3 separate regions of the Homo sapiens genome follow, and all the other regions are linked to region 1. Evidence: fine-mapped expression QTL. A gene starts in region 1. Each other region holds a variant in brackets. All regions are shown on one strand. Distances are from middle to middle. Region 1 holds the start of PPP4R3B (protein phosphatase 4 regulatory subunit 3B). Region 2 has its middle 43 kb from the start of CCDC88A. Region 3 overlaps PNPT1 (polyribonucleotide nucleotidyltransferase 1).

Region 1 (2,761 bases):
GGGAGCAGGCGTCTACGGTCCCAGCTACTCGGGAGGCTGAGGTGAGAGGATCGCTTGAGCCCTCAAGGCGGAGGCTACAGTGAGTCGAGATAGCGCCATTGCACTCTAGCCTGGGAAGCAGAGAGAGACTATCAAAAACAACAAAACGAATAAAGGGATTCTACCAAGAGTGAGCTGGACTGAAATAAACGACACGCTACTACGACCCAGCGCGTGACTATATCCACCGCACAATGTGCGATAATAGCCTCAATGCAGAGAGAATTCCTCCTTTCCTTATTCAGTGCAAGAGAGCCCTATAGAGAACGCAGGAAATGCCCGCGAGAAACTGAGAAGTATCAAAACAATCACAGATATGTTAGGAAAGTAGCTCCCCGCCACTTCCCTAAACTTATCATAGCAGACTTACTTTCCAAGGTTACAAACACAAGAAGAGCACTGTATTTTCATGAAGCGGAAAATGTGCTTTACAATCGCCAGCTACTAAGAGCCTTAACGGTGAAGCGCTCTGCAAGAAACAGGAAATCGTCAACACACTTTCTGCATGAATTGCCTGGAGAGTTGTGTCCATAGACAATTCCTGGTTAGATGCTTAATTGTAGCAGACTCCATAACGGGGTTTAGCGGGTTTCCATTCGGCAGAAAGGGCTCCACGTTCTTTTTCACAGAAAGGTTTAAACTTATTTTTCCTCCTCAGGCGGACGAAGTGAGCGTCGTTCCGTGAAGGTATGAAACCCTTTTCCTTCCTTTCTGTCCCTGGTTACTCCGGTTCAAGGCTACGTACTTCCCCGGTTTGCTTTGTTTTTTCCTCAGAGCTAAGTTCCTAGGAACGTCACATACTGGTGCCATCCAACAACATGACGACGTGCGGAACCGAAGTCCCCTTCCACCTAGCGGCCTCTCGCGGCGCAGGCGTGGACGGGGAGATCGCGAGAACCTCCCGCCCAATTGCGACCCCGCGCCAAGAGGCGGGGCCGAAAGAGGAGGAAGTCGGGCCGAAAGAGGAGGAAGTCTCGCCGAAGTACTCCCGCCCCAGTCGGTACCCCTCCTCGCGAGAGCGCCGAGCATTCCGGCCTGGGAAGCGCGTGCAGAAGCGGAGGTGCTGCTCATGGGACTTGTCGGCCGCCGTAGCCCCTGCTAGGACAGCCCGTGCGAGCCTGCTGGAGGAGGAAGAGAAAGGCAGAGAGAGTCGGGTTACAAGATGGCGGATCTGTAGTAGTTACCGCGGCGGCGGGAGAGCAAGCGAGCCCTGGGGGGCAAAGAGACGGGAGAGTGGGTGTATGCGCGGGTGAAGTGAGAGGTAACGGGGCCTCCGGGCGGAGAGGCCTCAGTGGCTCTTGTCACCCCTTCTCGCGGCTGAACCTTTGGAGCCATGGTGAATTCGGGCCTCTCCGAAGCCGCCGCCGCCGCCACCGCCACTACTGCCTTTACCGTCTCCTAAGAGTGAGGAGCGCGGACGAGGTAAGCGAGGAGGCGGCGGCTAGAGCGGTGGAGACAGCAGCCACCATGTCGGATACGCGGCGGCGAGTGAAGGTCTATACCCTGAACGAAGACCGGCAATGGGACGACCGAGGCACCGGGCACGTCTCCTCCACTTACGTGGAGGAGCTCAAGGGGATGTCGCTGCTGGTTCGGGCAGAGTCCGACGGTAAGGTTATCGGAACTGTAGAATAGGGGATAGTGCCTCTGGTTGGGGCACAGCTTGGGTTTAGGGCCCTGGGCCCGTTACCGTTGCTACTCCTTCGGGACAGCGCGTTGGTTCTGAACTGGCTCTTGTGTACGGCAAAAACAAAGTACTGTACTTTTGACTGGACTTATCCTCGGAGACCGAGACTCTCTGTCCTTCTCCCATCTCTCTTAAGGATTGGACTCCTTCCTTTCCAGTCCCTCCTCTTTTGAAGAGGGGAGAGTGTGAGAGAGAAGGGAGGAAGTAGTGAGAGACTAGGTACTGATGTCGCCCTAGGAGCTGACACCTTCCTCCCCCTTTATTTACTTATCCATTATACGTCTAGTACAAACGGTTTAGGGAAACTTTTCTTTCCGAGTGTTTTTAAAAAAAAAAAATTGTACCAACGGGCCCCAGGTGCCACAGTCGACAGGTGCTGGGGAAAACCGAAAGGCACGTTTTCCTGGCTGTATTGCTGACTGTTGCCACGATACATGGACACACAAGCACATACATCTGTAGTCTGCATTTCTTCGGGCTGCCTTTGTAGAAGGCGCTATGAGAAAGTGAATGCCTTACAATCTAAGCAAGTTGGGACACCAAAGCAGGTTGTAAACTGCTGTGTTCTTTGGTTTATTGTAGTCATGTGAAGTATTTTAAATTACAAAATGTAGAGCCGTAATTAAAATGCCTTTTATAGTATAATCTGGACTTGATTTGAACAACTGATATAGGCAGTTAGAAAAATAATCTTAGGTTTAGTCTTGACATATTTTGTATTCTTGCTTGTTCCCTTTTATTTTAAATAGTCATCACTTCTACAGAAGGTGTTCTTTTGTTCTTAATGAGGAAAGGATAAATGCAGCACTGTAATTTCTATACTAAGTATTTAATCCCTGTCATGATGTTTTTGTTTTGTAATTTGCATTATTTGTTAAACTGGGAATGCAATAAAACAACTTTTGTTAAAACGAATGGCTTGAAGTGGTCATTTAGACCTTAAAATTTTTATTTCAATAAAATTTTAATAGTCATCTAGTCTCCTCATTCCTTGGTTTGATTGTTGGTTTTAGATTAATTTTTCCTTTAAGGGTG
Region 2 (2,761 bases), 150 kb after region 1:
GTAATGGCCTTCTTTGTCTCTTTTGATCTTTGTTGGTTTCAAGTCTGTTTCATCAGAGACTAGGATTGCAACCCTTGCTTTTTTTTTTGCTTTCCATTTGCTTGGTAGATCTTCCTCCATCCCTTTATTTTGAGTCTATGTGTGTCTCTGCACATGAGATGGGTCTCCTGAATACAGCACGGTGATGGGTCTTGATTCTTTATCCAATTTGCCAGTCTGTGTCTTTTAATTGGGGCATTTAGCCCATTTACATTTAAGGTTAACATTGTTATGTGTGAATTTGATCCTGTCATTATGACGTTAGCTGGTTATTTTGCTCGTTCGTTGATGCAGTTTCTTCCTAGCATTGATGGTCTTTATAATTTGGCATGTTTTTGCAGAGGCTGGTACCAATTTTCCTTTCCATGTTTAGTGCTTCCTTCAGGAGCTCTTGTAGGGCAGGCCTGGTGGTGACAAAATCTCTCAGCATTTGCTTGTCTGTAAAGGATTTTATTTCTCCTTCACTTATGAAGCTTAGTTTGGCTGGATATGAAATTCTGAGTTGAAAATTCTTTTCTTTGAGATTGTTGAACGTTGGACTCCACTCTCTTCTGGCTTGTAGAGTTTCTGCCGAGAGATCCGCTGTTAGTCTGATGGGCTTCCCTTTGTGGGTAACCCGACCTTTCTCTCTGGCTGCCCTTGACATTTTTTCCTTCATTTCAACCTTGGCGAATCTGACAATTATGTGTCCTGAGGTTGCTGTTCTCGAGGAGTATCTTTGTGGTGTTCTCTGTATTTCGTGAATTTGAATGTTGGCCTGCCTTGTAGGCTGGGGAAGTTCTCCTGGACAATATCCTGAAGAGTGTTTTCCAACTTGGTTCCATTCTCCCTGTCACTTTCAGGTACACCAATCAAACGCAGATTTGGTCTTTTCACATAGTCCCATATTTCTTGGAGGCTTTGTTCATTTATTTTTGCTTTTTTCTCTAAACTTCTCTTCTTGCTTCACTTCATTAATTTGATCTTCAATCACTGATACCCTTTCTTCCACTTGATCGAATTGGCTACTGAAGCTTGTGCATGCGTCACGTAGTTCTTATGCCATGGTTTTCAGCTCCATCAGGTCATTTAAGGTCTTCTCCATGCTGTTTATTCTAGTTAGCCATTCGTCTGATCTTTTTTCCAGGTTTTTAGCTTCCTTGCAATGGGTTCGAACATCCTCTTTTAGCTCGGAGAAGTTTGTTATTACTGACCTTCTGAAGCCTACTTCTGTCAACTTAACAAAGTCATTCTCTGTCCCGCTTTGTTCCGTTGCTGGCAAGGAATTGCGATCCTTTGGAGGAGAAGAGGCGCTCTGGTTTTTAGAATTTTCAGCTTTTCTGCTCTGGTTTCTCCCCATCTTTGTGGTTTTATCTACCTTTGGTCTTTGATGATGGTGACTACAGATGGGGTTTTGGTGTGGATGTCTTTGGTTGATGTTGATGCTATTCC[T/C]TTCTGTTTGTTAGTTTTCCTTCTAACAGTCAGGTCCCTCAGCTGCAGGTCTGTTGGAGTTTGCTGGAGGTCCACTCCAGACCCTTTTTGCCTGGGTATCACCAGCGGAGGCTGCAGAACAGCAAATACATTGCTGTCTGATCCTTCCTCTAGAAGCTTCGTCTCAGAGGGACACCCGGCTGTATGAGGTGTCAGTTGGCTGCTACTGGGAGGTGTCTCCCAGTTAGGCTACACGGAGGTCAGGTACCCACTTGAGGAGGCAGTCTGTCCGTTCTCAGAGCTCAAATACCATGCTGAGAGAAACAGTGCCATCTTCAGAGCTGTCAGACAGGGATGTTTAAGTCTGCAGAAGTTTCTGCTGCCTTTTTTTCAGCTATGCCTTGACCCCAGAGGTGGAGTCTACAAAGACAGGCAGGCCTCGTTGAGCTGCGGTGAGCTCCACCCAGTTTAAGCTTCCTGTCCACTTTGTTTCCCTACTCAAACCTCAGCAATGGTGGACGCCCCTCCCCGAGCCAGGCTGCCGCCTCACAGTTTGATCTCAGACTGCTGTGCTAGCAGTGAGCAAGGCTCTGTGGGCATGGGACCCACTGAGCCATGCGCGGGATATAATTTCCTGGTGTGCCGTTTGCCAAGACTGGTGGAAAAGCACAGTATTTGGGTGGCAAAGTCCCGATTTTCCAGGTACAGTCTGTCATGGCTTTCCTTAGCTAGGAAAGGGAAATCCCCTGATCCCTGGCACTTCCCGGGTGAGGCGATGCCCTGCCCTGCTTCAACTCGCTCTCTGTGGGCTGCACCCACTGTCCAACCAGTCCCAATGAGATGAACCAGGTACCTCAGTTGGAAATGTAGAAATCACCCATCTTCTGCGTCAATCACGCTGGGAGCTGCAGACCAGAGCTGTTCCTATTTGGCCATCTTGGAATGGACCCCTATTTACCCTACTTTCAAGCTACAAGTTAAAGTTATCCAATGTGTTGGAGTACAATTTTTCATAGTATCATTATAATCCTTTCTATTTCTGTAAGCTGGTAATAATGTCCCCACTTCTGAAAAAGTTTAGTTGAAAATTATTTTACCGTAGAAATTTTCAAATATACACAAAAGTTAAGTAAATAGCATGATTCACTCCTACATACTTATCATCAAGATGAACAATTTTCAAGGGTTCATTAGACTTGCTTCATCTATTCCTTATCTTTCCCTCCCTCTCTCATGCAACCTAAGAGTGTATGAAAGGGGCCCATCTAGTTCTGTGTTAAGGTTAGAGAAGAAAGTATTTTTTAAAAAGGTT
Region 3 (2,761 bases), 29 kb before region 1:
GCAGAGGCTACAGTGAGCCAAGATCATGCCACTGCACTCCAGTCTGGGCAACAGACCGAGACTCCCTCTCAAAAAAAAAAAAAAATTGATAGATAAATATTTGTTTTAGGCTCATGTACACATTACCCACAGTTGTTCTTTTTCCCAATTATAGGGGTTCCAATTTCATCTGCTGTTGCAGGCGTAGCAATAGGATTGGTCACCAAAACCGATCCTGAGAAGGGTGAAATAGAAGATTATCGTTTGCTGACAGATATTTTGGCAAGTATATTCTCGGTTTCAAATATTTAATAATGAAGACTAAAAATAAATAAATAAAAATTAAAAGATAAAAACAAATAATGGTGAAGACTATATGTACTTTGCACCTAGCGTATGCTTAGAAGAATGCTAGTATTTGAAGAACAGGTACTTGTTCTTCCCTTCCTCCTCTGCATGTTCACCTTGTATCTTATAGGATATGAATTTAAAATAGATATTATATTAATAGTAATAGGCCAGGCACAGTGACTCATGCCTGTAATCCCAGCACTTTGGGAAGTCAGGAGTTCCAGACCAGTCTGGCTAATGTGGCAAAACTCCATCTCTACTAAAAATACAAAAATTAGCCTGGGCATGGTGGCACACACCTGTAATCCCATCTACTTGGCAGGCTGAGGCAGAATTGCTTGAACCCGGGAGGCAGAGGTTGCAGTGAGCCAAGATCGTGCCACTGCACTCCATCCTGGGCAACAGAGCAAGACTGTGTCTCAAAATAAGTAAAATAAAATAAAATAAAATGATTACTTTAAAAAAATAGTAATACTTACCCTTAAGTATTGCAGTAATACTTACACAGTGTAAGTATTCATAATGACTCACTTTAGGATGAGCATAAATTCATTCTCAGGCATTTATGAGGGAAAGGAATGATCTAAAAATAAAATGATGTTTCTGGTGAAAATAATTGTAGCTTAAAAAGTCACAAATTGGAAGTGGTAGTTAATGTAGAAAACATTGCTTTGTGTTTGGACTTAGGATATGGTTTACTTCTAAAGCTGTTTTTTGAAATGTTTCTACAGTGAATATGTTGACTTTTGTTTTTGTTTAAAACTATGTCATAACTTTTTAAATTCCTGAAGGGAATTGAAGATTACAATGGTGACATGGACTTCAAAATAGCTGGCACTAATAAAGGAATAACTGCATTACAGGTATTTTTAAAACCCATTTTGTTTCATTTTTGTAACATTTAAATAATGCCATGAGTCAATATTTATATAATTGTTTGACTTTTCCATATTAGGCTGATATTAAATTACCTGGAATACCAATAAAAATTGTGATGGAGGCTATTCAACAAGCTTCAGGTGAGCTA[G/C]TGTGCTTGATTCTCCCTTCATTCTTTTCCACTTTGCTAATGGGAACTATAGTTCTCATTAGGCTTATTATAAAATATTGCTTTAAAAAGTGGAATTTCATATAACTTAGATCAAGAAGTACTGGCCAGGTGTGGTGGCTCATGTCTGTAATCCCAGCACTTTGAGAGGCCGAGGCAGGCAGATCACTTCAGGTCAGGAGTTCGAGACCAGCCTGGCCAACATGGTGAAACCCTGTCTCTACTAAAAGTACAAAAATTAGCCGGGCATGGTGGTGCATACCTGTAATCCCAGCTACTCAGGAGGCTGAGACAAGAGAATCGCTTGAGCCCAGGAGGCAGAGGTTACAGTGAGCCGAGATCATGCCATTGCGCGCCAGCCTGGGTGACAGAGGGAAAATGTCTCAAAAAAAAAGAAGTACTAAGTAGCCAGGCATGGCATGGTGGCTCATCCTAGCACTTTGGGAGGCCAAGGCAGGAAGATTGCTTGAGCCCCAGGAGTTCAAGACCAGCCTGGGCAACGTAGTGAGATCCCATATCTATTTTAAAAAAAGAAGAAGCACAACTAAGTTTTTGGGACACATGAATACACGCCAAAGTGGGTTACCAGTGAAATTTCAATTTTTACAAATTAAACAACTCTATTTAAGATGGGATTTTTGGAGAAGAGAATATGAGTGAATTTTCAAGGTAATAGGGATGTGGAAAGCTTCAATTATTAAGCTACAGGGTTTAGATTGTATACCGTGAAAACTAAGAGTACAGTATTTCAGATCATATTTGTTTTATGTAGTTATAATTTTTGTGTTTTTCTCTTCTAGTGGCAAAAAAGGAGATATTACAGATCATGAACAAAACTATTTCAAAACCTCGAGCATCTAGAAAAGAAAATGGACCTGTTGTAGGTAATACATTAAAATTTTAGTGATCGGCTGGGCGCGGTGGCTCACGCCTGTAATCCCAGCACTTTGGGAGGCCGAGGCGAGCGGATCACAAGGTCAGGAGATCGAGACCATCCTGGCTAACACGGTGAAACCCTGTCTCTACTAAAAAATACAAAAAATTAGCCGGGCGTGGTGGCGGGCGCCTGTAGTCCCAGCTACTCGGGAGGCTGAGGCAGGAGAATGGCATGAACCCGGGAGGCGGAGCTTGCAGTGAGCCGAGATCGCGCCACTGCACTCCAGCCTGGGCGACAAAGTGAGACTCCGTCTCAAAAAAAAAAAAAAAAAAATTTTAGTGATCATGGTAAGATAAACATTAATATATGAATGAATATTACTGCTTTTAAATTGTTTTTACCCAGTGCACAAAACGAAAATATTTTAAATACTTTTGTAGTTAAAATGCTTTAAATTTTAGGGAATATTCTTTAACAGTTTTCAGTAATTTTAATCATCTACTTTTCTG

Evidence for each region.
Region 2: its variant is fine-mapped to the expression of PPP4R3B in whole blood (INTERVAL, PIP 0.92).
Region 3: its variant is fine-mapped to the expression of PPP4R3B in whole blood (TOPMed, PIP above 0.99). The same link has a PIP of 0.9 or more in skeletal muscle.

Annotation. Positions count from the first base shown.
Region 1 is chr2:55,616,031-55,618,791 of GRCh38, reverse strand. It overlaps PPP4R3B (protein phosphatase 4 regulatory subunit 3B), which reads left to right and starts at 1,170. Exons shown (of 17, transcript NM_001122964.3): 1 at 1,170-1,648. The coding sequence starts at 1,507. It overlaps PPP4R3B-DT (PPP4R3B divergent transcript), which reads right to left and starts at 862. Exons shown (of 3, transcript NR_186624.1): 1 at 410-862. RefSeq lists enhancers at 800-849, 870-1,269, 363-1,287, 1,288-2,214.
Region 2 is chr2:55,461,797-55,464,557 of GRCh38, reverse strand. No RefSeq gene overlaps it. Among named protein-coding and RNA genes, the nearest start is that of CCDC88A, 43 kb to the right of the region's middle. The variant T/C (reference allele first, on the strand shown) is at 1,471.
Region 3 is chr2:55,644,847-55,647,607 of GRCh38, reverse strand. It overlaps PNPT1 (polyribonucleotide nucleotidyltransferase 1), which reads left to right. Exons shown (of 28, transcript NM_033109.5): 19 at 155-261; 20 at 1,122-1,193; 21 at 1,286-1,349; 22 at 2,176-2,259. Among named protein-coding and RNA genes, the nearest start is that of PPP4R3B-DT, 28 kb to the right of the region's middle. The variant G/C (reference allele first, on the strand shown) is at 1,358.